2 linked regions of the Homo sapiens genome follow. The protein of the gene in region 1 purifies or fractionates together with the protein of each later gene. This does not show direct contact. Each region holds a gene or a part of one and is shown in the gene's direction. Other genes may lie near its edges. The genes, in order: PCIF1 and MNAT1.

Region 1 (3,819 bases):
GGGCAGGACATCCTCATCACTCCTCTCTGTGCCCCAAGGGTCTACTGGGACCTGGACATCCAGACCAATGCTGTCATCAAGCACCGGGGGCCTTCAGAGGTGCTGCCCCCGCATCCCGAAGTGGAACTGCTCCGCTCTCAGCTCATCCTGAAGCTTCGGCAGCACTATCGGGAGCTGTGCCAGCAGCGAGAGGGTACCTGCCTCTGGGCTGCAGCCTCCTTTATTTCCACCCACCTTTAGCATGAGCCAGGTTTGGCCAGGCCAGTTTGGGGATGGCGGAGTGGGGCCCAGTGGTGAGCCATGATCACACCAGTGCACTCCAGCCTGAGTGACAGAGCAAGACCCTCTTTCAAAAAAACAAGAGTATCTATACCTTAGGATTCTATGATAACCATTAAGTAAAATGAATAAGTATTAAATGAACTGTAGTTTTTAATTTTATTTATTTATTTTTTTTGAGATGGAGTCTTGTTCTGTAGCCCCTGCTGGAGTGCAGTGGCACCATCTCCGCTCACTGCATCATCCTCCTCCTGGGTCCCGGTTCAGGCAATTCTCCTGCCTCAGCCTCCCGAGTAGCGGGATTACAGGTGTACACCACCATGCCCAGCTCATTTTTGTATTTTTAATAGAGATGGGGGTGTCACGATGTTGGCCAGGCTGGTCCTGAACTCCTGACCTTGTGATGCGCCCGCCTCAGCCTCCCACAGTGCTGGGATTACAGGCATGAGCCACCACACCTGGCTAATTTTTTTTTAAGAGACAGGATCTGGCTATGTTGCCCAGGCTGGTCTTGTACTCCTGGGCTCAAGCCTTCTGCTTGCCTTGGCCTCCCACAGTGCTGGGATTACAGATGTGAGCCACCATGCCTGGCCTAGTTTTTAATTTTTATGATTAGTAATAAACCTATTTAACCTTGCTCAAATATAGAATCCTCTGGCCTTTCACCTTTTTTTTTTTTTTTTTAATTTTTTTTTTTCTTGAGACGGCGTCTCGCTCTGTCGCCCAGGCTGGAGTGCAATGGCGTGATCTCGGCTCACTGCAACCTCCACCTCCCGGGTTCAAGCGATTCTTCTGCCTCAGCCTCCTGAGTAGCTGGGACTACAGGTGCCTGCCACCACGCCCAGCTAATTTTTATACTTTTAATAGAGATGGGGTTTCACCATGTTGGCCAGGATGGTCTCGATCTCTTGACCTTGTGATCCACCCGCCTTGGCCTCCCAAAGTGCTGGGATTACAGGCGTGAGCTACCGCACCCGGCCCACCCTTTTTTTTTTTTTTTTTACATTATGTAATACTTTTTTTTTTTTTTCTTTTTCTAAGATGGAGTTTTGTTCTTGTTGCCCTGGCTGGAGTGCAATGGCACGGTCTCGGCTCACTGCAACCTCTGCCTCCCAGGTTCAAGCGATTCTCCTGCCTCAGCCTCCTTAGTAGCTGGGAATATGGGCACATGCCACCACACCCAGCTAATTTTTGTATTTTTAGTAGAGATGGGTTTTTTCCATGTTGGCAAGGCTGGTCTCTAACTCCTGACCTCAGGTGATCCACCCATCTCGGCCTCCTGAAGTGCTGGGATTACAGGCGTGAGCCACTGCGCCCAGCCTTTTTATTCTTTTCTTTTGAAACAAGGTCTCGCTCTGTCACCCAGGTTGGGGTGCAGTGGCACGACCACAGCTCACAGCAGCTTCAGCCACCCGGGTTCAAGCGATCCTCCCGCCTCAGCCTCCCGAGGAGCTGGGACACCCAGCTAATTTCTTTTTTTTTTTTTTTTTTTTTTTTTTTGTAGAGACAGGCTGTTACTGTGTTGCCCAGGCCGGTCTTGAACTCATGGGCTCAAGCTGTCCTTCCACCTTAGCCTTCCAAAGTGCTGAGATTACAGATGTGAGCCACTACGCCTGGCTAGATACTTATCAACACTATAAAACTAGTGATTCTTAGAATATATTTTGGGAAATGCAGCCTAGAAGCTTCTGAAGTGGGACTGTGTCTTGCTTACTGCTGAATGCGATGCTTCCTATACGTGCCAAGCTCCAAGTGGGACTGCTTGATTAAATCCAGGCCTTCAGCAGCTCTCCTGTCCTGCAGGCATTGAGCCTCCACGGGAGTCTTTCAACCGCTGGATGCTGGAGCGCAAGGTGGTAGACAAAGGATCTGACCCCCTGTTGCCCAGCAACTGTGAACCAGTCGTGTCACCTTCCATGTTTCGTGAAATCATGAACGACATTCCTATCAGGTACAGCTCCACAGCTGGGGATGACCCTGGGCCATTTGGTTTCTGTGCCCAGTCATGTATAGAAGGCCTCTAACTCTGCCCACTCTGAAACGCAGGTTATCCCGAATCAAGTTCCGGGAGGAAGCCAAGCGCCTGCTCTTTAAATATGCGGAGGCCGCCAGGCGGCTCATCGAGTCCAGGTTTGCCTGTCTTCTGCCCCAGGCGAGATGGGTCTGTGATTAAAGTGGCAGGTCATAGGCCATCTTGCCCAGTCTCATGCAGGGCTGTCATTGCTCTCGGTGGCAGAAGTGGGGCCAGCTCCCAAAGGCAGAACAAGGGCTGTGATGGAAGCTAGGGGTTGATACCCAGCGAGCCCATGGAATTGGGATGAGGAGGGTGGAGCCAAGCCATTCCTTTCTTCTGCCCTCCCCTTGACTGGCAGGAGTGCATCCCCTGACAGTAGGAAGGTGGTCAAATGGAATGTGGAAGACACCTTTAGCTGGCTTCGGAAGGACCACTCAGCCTCCAAGGAGGACTACATGGTGAGTGGGTCCCCGGGTGAGAAGGCCAGTTTTAGGGCTCTGTGGCCACTTCCTCCAGGAAGCCTACTCTGCCTGTCCAGGCTGGGCAAGGCCTCCCCCAGCGGCCTATTCTTGTGCAGTATGGCAGACGTTCGACATTCGTCAGTCCCCAAACTCATGACTGTGGAGATGTTTCTCTGGGCTCCTGGCTTTCTCCCACAGAACATTTCCATTAACAATCTTAATGGAGTCTTATGCTTGGCCACACACCACAGATAGCTGCCTTTCAGCCTAATGAATGTTCAGCATCTCCCTTGTAGATTTTTGGAAACAGATTGACAGCCTGCTTTTTTTGGGTGTGTGTGTTCATATCATGGTTAAGAGCTACCATCAGATTCAATTCCCTACTCTTAATGTGTCCAAAACAGTTCTGTTTTCTGGCCAAAACCTATCACTTCTTAAACCTCTCCACCAGCACTAGCAATGGGCTTTCTTTTCAGGACCATATTTCACAAGAGACAAGGTTTCGCACTTCACGATAGTAACTGTGTACTTGACACGTAGAGAGTGACAAAGGTAGGTGTACTCACTAGCCAGAGTGACTCATTCTCACTCTTCAGTTTTACACGTGTGATTCAGCAAAATTACAAATCCCGACAGTCATCTTTGCAAGTAGCTAAAAGCTCAAATCTCAAGTCTGCAGCAACCAAGCACCCTGTTTTGTAATTGTGTCTTTCCCCAATAGACTGCAAACACCATAAGCTGGGACTGTGCTGGTTTGTCTGTTTCTCCGGTAATTATCATGGGATCTAGCAGTGTAACCCCAACAAAAGCTACTGGCATTTATTGTACACTTACTGTATGCCAGGCATTTGGCAAGCCCTTAAGGGAAATGATCACATTTAATATTCAAACTGCCCTGTTAGGTATCTCGTGTCCCCTTGACACTTGAGGAATAAGATTGAGAGAAGCCAGGGGATTTGTCCAAGTGACACAGCTAGTCAGCAGCAGAGCTGGTTTCAAAACAAGGACTGCTGGACTCCAACAGCCCTGCGGTTACCTGCCAGCCCAGCTGAGCCCCTCTGGCCT
Region 2 (3,819 bases), on another chromosome or scaffold:
GAATGGTGCCAGCATTCATCCAAGTGTTCAATCCATATTTGGTCAGTCTTTATATTCTGTTGATGATCACTCCTTATCATTTTTAAGCCTCATCCCCACTCTAATTAGATTATTACTTTATTTAGGGCTCTTATTTCTATTCTTTCTTTTTTTTTTTTTTTTTTTTTTGAGATGGAACCTCGCCCTGTTGCCCAGGCTGGAGTGTAATGGTGTGAACTTGGCTCACTGCAACCTTCATTTCCTGGGTTCAAGCGATTCTCCTGCCTCAGCCTCCCGAGTAGCTGGGATTACAGGCATGTGCCACCATGCCTGACTAATTTTTTGTATCTTTAGTAGAGACAGGGTTTCACCATGTTGGCCAAGCTGGTCTCGAACTCCTGACCTTGTGATCCACCCGCCGTGGCCTCCCAAAGTGCTGGGATTACAGGTGTGAGCCGCTGCGTAGGGCTCTTATTTCTTATCTGGGTTATTTGAATATACTTCTAACTAGTCCTCCTATTGTCAGTCTTGAACCCAATTGATCTTTATGTATACCTTACTGCCTCTAGTCATCTTTCTAAACTCATCCCTCAAATTCCCTTAATATGTTCCCAGTGGCCTTAGTATAGCAAAATTCCACTAGTATGGTATAACAGAATAGTTGTTTTATTTAATAGTAACGTGTCTACATGAAATAAAGTAAATTCTATTTTCTTCAATATGGAATTGCTACATTATTAAATAATAAGTGACTAGTGTGTTTTATGCTTCCAATAAAGAAAGTATTAGAGTGTGGTATATGATTGCTCTTGGCTCCTAAATTTATTCCACGCCATATATAAATTTTTGTTTTAGACTCGAGAACAGGAAGAACTGGAAGAAGCTTTAGAAGTGGAACGACAGGAAAATGAACAAAGAAGATTATTTATACAAAAAGAAGAACAACTGCAGCAGATTCTAAAAAGGAAGAATAAGCAGGCTTTTTTAGATGAGCTGGTATGTATTAATGCTAATTGTGATTGTAAAAAACATTCTTCAGGATTTACCTTTCCTAGTAGGCTGGATGATGGCATTTAAAGGGCTTTTCCACAGTGTTTGTAATCTGGTTCACCTTTAGTTTTGTTGGTTATGTATTGATATCAGTGTATTTATTGCTGAATAAGAGGTTGCCCTCCATCCACACTGAACAATATGTTTTTATGCTCACAATTCTGTGGGTTAGGAATTTAAGTGGTTCTTTTGGGCTTTTCTGCTTCCCTAATGTATTCTCAGGACACCTCTCCATGTGGTTTTGATAGCGACAGGAGGCAGCCAAATGCCTAGGCAGATAGGGACGGGTACCCAGAGAAACCCCATCTCCATGTTGAAGACAGTTTAAAACCTGAAAGCCAAGCTACAAGTTAAATCCTTGGACCAGATTGAGAACTTGTCCTCCTGTTTGGTGTGCTTTCCTCTGATTGATCCCCACTCTTCACCTATTTTATGTATATCTACCCTTTCCTAATTGGTTTTCTACACTGTCATGCCCATCTTTGAGTAGTGTCTTCACTTCAACCTTTTTTGCTTACTCATAAGCTAATTCAGCACATTCTCCTCATCCTGTGCCTATAAAGACCCCAGACTCAGTAAGTAGAGGAAGAGACAACCTGACTTCGGGGAAGACGACTTGCTCTTCCTGTCCCCTCTCCAGCTCCCCTCTCTGCTAAGAGCTGTTTTCATCGCTCAATAAAATTATCACCTTCGCCATCTTTTAACCATCCCTGTGACCTCATTCTTCTTGGATGCCAGACAAGAGCTTGGGACCCACCAAGTGTGGGTACCCAGAAAGGCTGTCACACTGGCACTTTGCCCTTCCTGGTGGAGAGCAGCTGCCCTAGGTGACAAGGCCAGAAGCCAACTGAGCTGCCAACACACTGTTGTCTGATGGCAGAACTAAAGGAGCACTGTAACACTTCCCCTGGGGCTTTGGGGTTGTGGGCCCCCTCACCTGGGCACTGCCATGTTCCCCTTGAGGCAACATGCCTGGTCTGGCTGTGGGCCCCACGTAGAGTTTGCTTCTGTGTCCGTGCCTGGGGCGGATGGCTGGGTCCTGCACTTGCTTGCTTGTGTCTGGTCTGACTGCGGGCCCCATGCAAAACTTGTTCCTGTATTGGTGCTTGGAGCAGCTGGCTAGATCTGCGCTGACTCACCCACGTGCTCCCTCCCACATAGAGTTGAGTGCAGTGGGTCTAGTAGAGGGGAGTCCTTACCGTGAATCTAGTGAAGGGGCTGACTACATCAGAAACTGCATCAATTTCTGTAACAGTGTGATTGTACTTCTCACATGTTGGCTCAGGGTTACAAGAGAGAATATCCCAAGAATAAGGAGGTAGAAGATGCTAACATTTTAGGGCTTGGGCTAGGAAACTGGCACAGCACTGATTCCACCATATTAGTAAAAGAGCCCACTCAGTTACAAAGGGAATGGATATAGATCTCACCTCCTAATGGGAGTGTGATGGCCATCTTTAGTCCACACAGTATGTACTGGGGAAAACTATGTTTTTCTAGAATTTGGCATAATATAAATTCATTTGGGATACTCAGTCTCTATCCCAATGTGAGTTTAGTGATAAGAATTATGAAAATGACTTTCATTTTCATATTGTAGTTTGTCTTACCCTTATGCCTATTTATTTATATCATGCCAACTACTATGAAGGATTTAAAGTGATTTCCTAGATAAGAGTATTGTTTGTGGACATGGCACTACTTACTTTGTGTAACTCTAAGAACGATGTTAAAATGAGGTTCTAGTATATTTTACTTCTATATTTTTAAAAAGATTTTTGTTTAATATCCATTTTATTTTCAGATGAGAGAGTGACATTATAACTGAGATGAGCCAGTATATTCTTGATAGATTGTTTATATGGCTTTAAGCTAACTGACTAAAATACATTGTTTCTGAAGCACTTTTCTCCTGATTAATACTATTTTTCTAATAATGAGCTCATTTTGGCTCCATGCTGAAGTTTATATTGACTGTTTACTTTGTGACAATATATTTTATATTTTTGCATAAAAAAATAGTGTATTTTTGCTTGAAAGAAATAGCGGGGTTTTTGCAAATTATTGTTTTCCAGCAATTAGCTTCCTAGGTAGTCAACCTTGTTAGATAATGACAGTAATAATAACTAAGGTTTATGAAGTGTTTCATGGATTTATTACTATATTATTTGATACTTATAACCCTGTATGATATTGATGACTTCACAAACCGGAAAATCTTCCTCTCCAGGAAAGTCTTTTTGCATTCTTCTCTTTCCCTTTATGTTCATATAATTTATTTCCCTGAGGCTTTTGTGTTTGTGTGTGTGTGTGTGTATGCAGTGTTAATACACTTAACTTTCTTGTCTAGTTGATAATGCTATTATCCTATGATTGGGGAAAATATGTATATATGTGTTCTTCTACTGTGCTTTTGCCAAAAAAGCATTTAAGTCAGTTAACCAGGAGTAAAAAAAGAGAAAGCAAGATTACTTAAATTATAAGGAGGTGAGAAACTAAAGGAAAAATAAGGGTAAGGGCATTCATGAGGCTTAGATAGAAAACACTGTCATAAAACTCTATTTTCTATGACTGGAATGTGAATTTGGCTCTAAAAATGAGGACACCAGCATATTAAATAGAATAATGACGCCTTCCCTAGCAACTTTCATTAGTTCTTTCTTGAAACTATTAAGTGGCAGGTATGGCTTTAACAGTGAAATGACATGTTGTATTTTATATTTTTGTAGCTGTTTGGTGAGAAATTAAAAACTTTAAAAATGAATTAGTAAATTGATGTTACTAATTATT

What was found.
Region 2: the proteins of PCIF1 (region 1) and MNAT1 purify together in Homo sapiens (affinity purification with mass spectrometry; one large-scale study listed by BioGRID and IntAct). This does not show direct contact.

What each region holds. Positions count from the first base shown.
Region 1 is NC_000020.11:45,941,015-45,944,833, forward strand, and holds part of PCIF1 (mRNA (2'-O-methyladenosine-N(6)-)-methyltransferase), read left to right. Parts: intron 1-38; coding exon 39-193; intron 194-2,082; coding exon 2,083-2,230; intron 2,231-2,325; coding exon 2,326-2,409; intron 2,410-2,651; coding exon 2,652-2,751; intron 2,752-3,819. UniProt on the Homo sapiens protein: Cap-specific adenosine methyltransferase that catalyzes formation of N(6),2'-O-dimethyladenosine cap (m6A(m)) by methylating the adenosine at the second transcribed position of capped mRNAs.
Region 2 is NC_000014.9:60,811,153-60,814,971, forward strand, and holds part of MNAT1 (CDK-activating kinase assembly factor MAT1), read left to right. Parts: intron 1-834; coding exon 835-975; intron 976-3,819.